Regions from separate parts of the Homo sapiens genome. Here region 2 is linked to region 1. The links come from fine-mapping of genetic effects on gene expression. Tissue or cell type: tibial artery. Region 1 holds a variant in brackets; the other region holds the start of a gene. All regions are shown on one strand. Distances are between the middles of the regions.

Region 1 (2,912 bases):
GCCTGGCACTGGCTGGGCACACGATGCAGGTGCTAAGGGCTTGGTCTGTGATTTCCATGGATGAGGGTGTTACTCGTGGGGGTTTAACTCAGTCCCTGTTTTGTGACCTAGAGCCCGATGGTTCCCAGTTACACACAAGTGTAAAATGCCAATCAATCAATCAGGAGGAAAAACAAAGGCTTGTCCCAGCCAGCCAGGGGCTTATGATAACAAGGGAAGATGGTCCTGGTGTTCCTGCCCTGAGAACGCAGCCTGAGTGCTGGTGGCTGTGGGGACTCCAGCATGCTCCTCTGTCCCAGTTCTGGTGGTATCTTCCTCCCACTGCGGGGAGTCCATGAATGTGAAAGTACTTTAGAGACCACTAGTGTCAACAGGATTACCTTTCCTCAACTCACCGCATCATGGCTCTACTTTCCTCTCTGGTCGCAACATGGAACTGAAGTAGCCTTTTAACATTATTCGTTACTGTTACAGAATGGAGTTTGCTCCCTGTTCTTGAAGTAAAACACAGCAGAATTAAATGTATCTTCGTTTCAAATCTAGATCAATTTTTTTCCCTTATACGTAAGCCCTGATAATTTTTTCCCATGGACTTGAGGATCCTGAAAGCCTCAAAGGTGTATGCTGCTCAAACTCTAAGTTACCAGTAGCTTAAGAATGGCTATGGCACCCAGAGGAGGAAAGGTAGAGAAATGGCAGTCTCTACTTACAACCATTCCATTATTGATGGGCATTACACTGATTCCAGCTTTTCACTATTATGGCAAGAAAACATTGTTTTAGTTTGTTAGGGCTGCCGTAACAAACTACCACAAACCGAGTGGCTTAAACAGCGAAATGTATTGCCTCACAGTTCTGGAGGTTGGAAGTCCAAGACCAAGGTGGGCAGGGCTGGTTCCTTGTGAGGGTGTGAGGGAGAATCTGTTCCAGGCCTCTGTCCAGGGCTTGTGAATGGCTGTCTTCTCCCTGCCTTTTCACATGGTCTTTCCTCTGGCATGTTGGTCTCTGTGTCCAAATTTCCCCTTTTCATCAGGACACCATTATATTGGATTAAGACCCACTCTAATGACTTCATTTTAATTAGTTTTGTTTGTTTGCTCCATAAAGACTCTATTTCCAAATAAGGTCATATTGTGAGGTACTGGTGGCTGGGACTCCAACATCTTCTTTGGAGGCACACAATTCAACCCATAACAAATGTCATAAAAGAAGAAGGTGTTCGCCGATTCCTTTATTTATTTAGGAGGTGGGGGCAGGACGCGGAGTAAGTTTCCTATAGGGAAAGAGTTGAGAAGAGTCTGCAGGGACTGA[C/G]CTAGAAAGCAGTGACACTCCGTAGTTGGAAAAAAGCAGAGCACATCTTTAAGTACCTGGTGTGAGTTTTGTAAGAAAACCTACCTTATGAATGAGTACAGTGGAATACTACTTAGTACATTCATACATGTTTCTACCATCTCAAGATTTTTATATATACAGTATATGATCTGTTTTTATAAATGTACAGCTTGAAAAAAGATCCTTCTTGTAGTAAGTACAGCATTTAAACACAAACCAATATGGGCCAGCCACATTCTAATTGAAGACCCAGAGAAAGCAAAGCCAGCAGCCCAGCCCCCAGCCCCCAGCCCCTGACCTGCTTGGCGGCCCTGATGGTCCCGGCAAAGTGTAAACCAGTGCCCCTCTGTCGCCCTGGGCTCAGCAGGCCAGCTTACCCTTGGCACGTACATGGGAAGTGCCTGCTCACGCTAAGCCCAGTCTGCAGAGGGCGGGTCCTCCCTGAAGGAAGGTGGCAGAGAGGAATGTGTCTATCAGGTATGGACAAGAGAGATGAAAGAAATGTGCTCTTCAACTAAAGGCACTTGTCAGCGGCCACCTACAGCCATTCTCTAGGCCTGGTGAGCAAGCAGGGTGCTGTTTTGATAGAAGCCTACAAGGTCTGAGCAGACCTCACTTGTCCTCTCACCAGGTTTAAATACAATAAATAAATCTTAATGCATGGTGGTTTTGTCCTCCTGGGTTCCTATGAAGAGGCTACCTTTTAGGATCACTTATGGAGTGATACTCCCTGTCCCCAACCCAGCCTTTTCAGTGTCCTCCATGGGGAAGGTACCAGAATAGCTCCAGGCCTTGGAGAAGCAATTGCTCATTGTGGATTGTAAGGGGAGCCCCTAAATATCCCCTCCCCTGGTCTGTGCCTGGAGCTCCTCTGCCCCATGTGTCAGAGTCACGGGCACCTCAGATCTTGGTCACATAGTTGTTGGGGAACAGGCCCTGCTTGCCTCGTAGTCGACCCGTCCACCAGCCAGAAGGATCTGCAGGGAGAGAGAGGTGGTGGAAGTGAAGATGAGAAAGTCTGTTCTGCCCCAGCCACACACACTCCGCTCCCATGGGCTCAAGTGATTTGGCTCCATCCATGTTGTTTTCCCTTTGTTCTTTAAATCAAAAAGTTTGTTGAAAAAAGTAAGATATCTACCAAATTAATAAAGCACTCAGCCAAGCCCATGGACTGCTTTAATAATGGATATTCAAGGTTGTCTTCCTGGCTTCCACTCCATCCACTTTCATTATGAAGAAGCCAGGAAGTGTGGGTGGGACAGACCTCCCCGTTTCTGGGGACAGCCCCTACCAGGTCTCATCCTCTCAGGGTACAGCCTTTGTCTTGCTACTGAAGTTGGTTCAGGGATGGACACATGGCTAATTTGGTCTGATCAGAATAAAAGTCAGGACTTTTGTCCAATGACTAAGAACAGAAGTTTCAGAGATGATGCACATTTCAGACATGGTTTGATATGTTGGCCTGGAATTGCTGCTGCCGTTTTGCTACCATGAAGAAAAACAGCTTGACAAGGGAGGGAATATAAATAAGGGGGCAGAGCTGAAAGAAGCATTAAAAAAGCTGGTGTCTTGATCAGACT
Region 2 (2,912 bases), 32 kb before region 1:
ATTGTGAATTGTGCTGCTGTAAACATACATGTGCAAGTGTCTTCTTCATATAATGACTTCTTTTCCTTTGGGTAGATACCCAGTAGTGGAATTGCTGGACCAAATGGTAGAACTACTTTTTGTTCTTTAAGGAATCACCATACTTTTTTCCATAGAAGTTGTACATTCCTACCAGCAGTGTTTAAGCATTCCCTTTTCCCCACATCCACGCCTACACTGTTTTTTGACTATTGTTTTTTGAGGTTTTTTTTCTTTTTTAGACAGGGTTTCAATGTGTTGCCCAGGCTGGAGTACTGTGGCACAATCATGGCTCACTGCAGCCTCAGACTCATGGGATCAAGGGATCCTCCTGCCCCAACACACGGCCCCCCGCCCCCCGCCCCCCGCCCCCCTCCCAGTACCTGGGACTACAGGTGCTCACCACTACACCCGGCTAATATTTGTATTTTTGTAGAGACGGGGTTTTGCCATGTTGCCCAGGCTGGTCTTGAACACCTGGGCTCAAATGATCTGCCCAACAGGCCTCCCAAAGTGCTGGGATTACAGGTGTGAGCCACTGCGCCCGGCCTTTTTTTCTGACTTTTTAATGATGGCCATTCTTGCAGGAGTAAGGTGGTATCTCCTTGTGGTATTAACTTGCATTTCTTCGATGATCAGTGATGTTGAGCATTTTTTCATGTATTTGTTGGCCATTTGAATATCTTTTGAGAAATATCTATTCATGTCCTTTGCCCATTTTTTGATGGCATTATTTTCTTTCTTGCTGATTTGAGTTCCTTCTAGATTCTGGACACTAGGCCTTTTTCCGATGCATAGTTTGCAAATATTTTCTCTTAATCTGTGGTTGTCTATTATTTCTTTTGATGTGCAGAAGCTTTTTAGTTTAATTAGGTCCCATTTATGTATTTTTGTTTTTGTTGCATTTGCTTTTGGGGTCTTAGACATGAATTCTTTGCTTGGGCTGATTATTAGACGAACATTTATTGAGCACCAACCATATACGACAAACGATGTACTAGGTGTTGGGAATACAATGGAGAACTTACATGAATCACCAGTCACACAAATCTCTTTTATCTTTTTTTTTTTTTTTTTGCCTTACTTGAGAATTTGGGTTTTTGAGTAAACGCCATTATTCTCTCTTTTTTTAAGCACACTTTTGCATCTCAACCACCTAACACACTGCATCCCTGAGCAACCCGGAGGGGCCGGTTCCTGCACCCAGGCCAACACAACTTAAACCCCAACACACCAGAAGAGGAATAAAGGCCAACCAACTTCCGCCCACCCACTACAAACGTCGAGAGAAATTCGTAGATGAGGCCTTGTCAAAATTCAGAGGCGTCCTACGTCTGCTTTCCCAATGAGACAGTTCCTTTTTGTTTGTCTCAGAGACTGGGGTTTTTTTTTTTTTAAAAGACTGTAGGCAGAAAAAACACCCCAACCGGCTGTTGTGACAATCAAACGTGTCTAAGAAAATTCAGCCAATGAGAGTGCGAGAGTGCATCTTGTGTTGGCCAATGAGAACAGCGACCCGTGCGCAGGGCCGCCCAATGGGGCGCAAGCGACGCGGTATTTGAATCCTGGAACAAGGCTACAGCGTCGAAGATCCCCAGCGCTGCGGGCTCGGAGAGCAGTCCTAACGGCGCCTCGTACGCTAGTGTCCTCCCTTTTCAGTCCGCGTCCCTCCCTGGGCCGGGCTGGCACTCTTGCCTTCCCCGTCCCTCATGGCGCTGCTCCGACGCCCGACGGTGAGTGTGCCCGGGGACCGCTCTCAGAGGCGAGTCCGTCGGCCCCACAGCTCCCCTGTCGCTTCTCTCATCTGCTCCGAGCTTCTCCGTCCCAACCGGGGCTGCTTTTCTCTTCTCCGGAGCTCACTGCTTCGCCCGCGTCCCTGGCCCTGCGGCCGGTCCTCTCCGGCCCGCCTTTCCCCGTCTGGATTCCGCCCTCCCCTAACCCCTCCCTGCCCCGGGGTGGGAGAAGTGTAGGAAAGCGCTTCCGAGATGGCGCCTGTCAAGTGAGCCCCCAGAGCACTAGGCCTAGTACTCAGCGAGCGATCCCCGAGTGCTCTTCATTGCTAGAGAGTTATCTACTTCCACGTTCCTGGGATTTCCCTCCCCCTTTCTTACAACTCCTTGCCAACTAAGGGACCTGTGATGGCGGCTGGGAGGAGGACTGGAAGGGTTCTGTAGGCAGTAAAGTGTACGGCGTGTTTCATCAGGCAACTGCCAGGCTGTTTTTCAGATTGTTCACATTTCTTTTTGTATGAGTTTCCCATTTATTTCGGCACGCTAAGTCTTCCATGCTACGTTCACTAATAAATGGGTTTGTCCCCTTAAAAAATTAATTTCTTTACTCAAATGTAACAGAGGTTTTTGAATATAATTTGGACCAATGTGGCAGACTGAGAGAAAAGGGTCCAAATTCATTTATTTCATCCTTGCAGAGATCAAAGTGTTATGGTGTTTTGGGTATTTTTCCTGTGGGCTTGAATTGTACCGGGACCTACTTTTTTCCTTTGCCGAAAGCTAGAGGGCCCTGACACACCTGAGTTCCATCATCTTGGCTATAAGGTTAGATAAAAGCTGCCAATTTTCCTATCCAGATGAATTTAAATTGAGTCACATTACCAGGCTTCTACCCATAAGCATTACATTTTCAAACACTTTTTCAGATTGGCAGTTGCTGCTGGAAGAAATTGAAGTGTGACTTTTGAGAATCCTAATAGATTGAATACATTTAGCATTTAATTAATATCCTTTTGTGGATCTAAGTCCAACTGACAAGTAATTTTTTATAATAATGTATTCTATAACGTTATTTAATAGTCAAAACCTTTCTGTTCAGGGAAGGCTTGAGTTTCCCTGGCCCCTCTCTCTGCCTGGTAGATCCACTCAAACCCCTTGTTGGGA

Direction of the effects. Positions count from the first base shown, and alleles are read on the strand shown. Sizes are in standard deviations (SD) of each study's normalised expression.
With allele C in place of G in region 1, the expression in tibial artery of the gene that starts at base 1,605 in region 2 is higher (small effect, 0.34 SD a copy in GTEx).

The links. PIP is the estimated chance that this variant, and not a neighbour inherited with it, causes the effect.
Region 2: it holds the start of CCNB2, and the variant in region 1 is fine-mapped to the expression of CCNB2 in tibial artery (GTEx, PIP above 0.99).

What each region holds. Positions count from the first base shown.
Region 1 is chr15:59,135,148-59,138,059 of GRCh38, forward strand. MYO1E (myosin IE) reads right to left here. Exons shown (of 28, transcript NM_004998.4): 28 at 1-2,309. The coding sequence ends at 2,233. Among named protein-coding and RNA genes, the nearest start is that of CCNB2, 31 kb to the left of the region's middle. The variant C/G (reference allele first, on the strand shown) is at 1,312.
Region 2 is chr15:59,103,542-59,106,453 of GRCh38, forward strand. CCNB2 (cyclin B2) reads left to right here and starts at 1,605. Exons shown (of 9, transcript NM_004701.4): 1 at 1,605-1,751. The coding sequence starts at 1,728. RefSeq lists an enhancer at 1,128-1,417.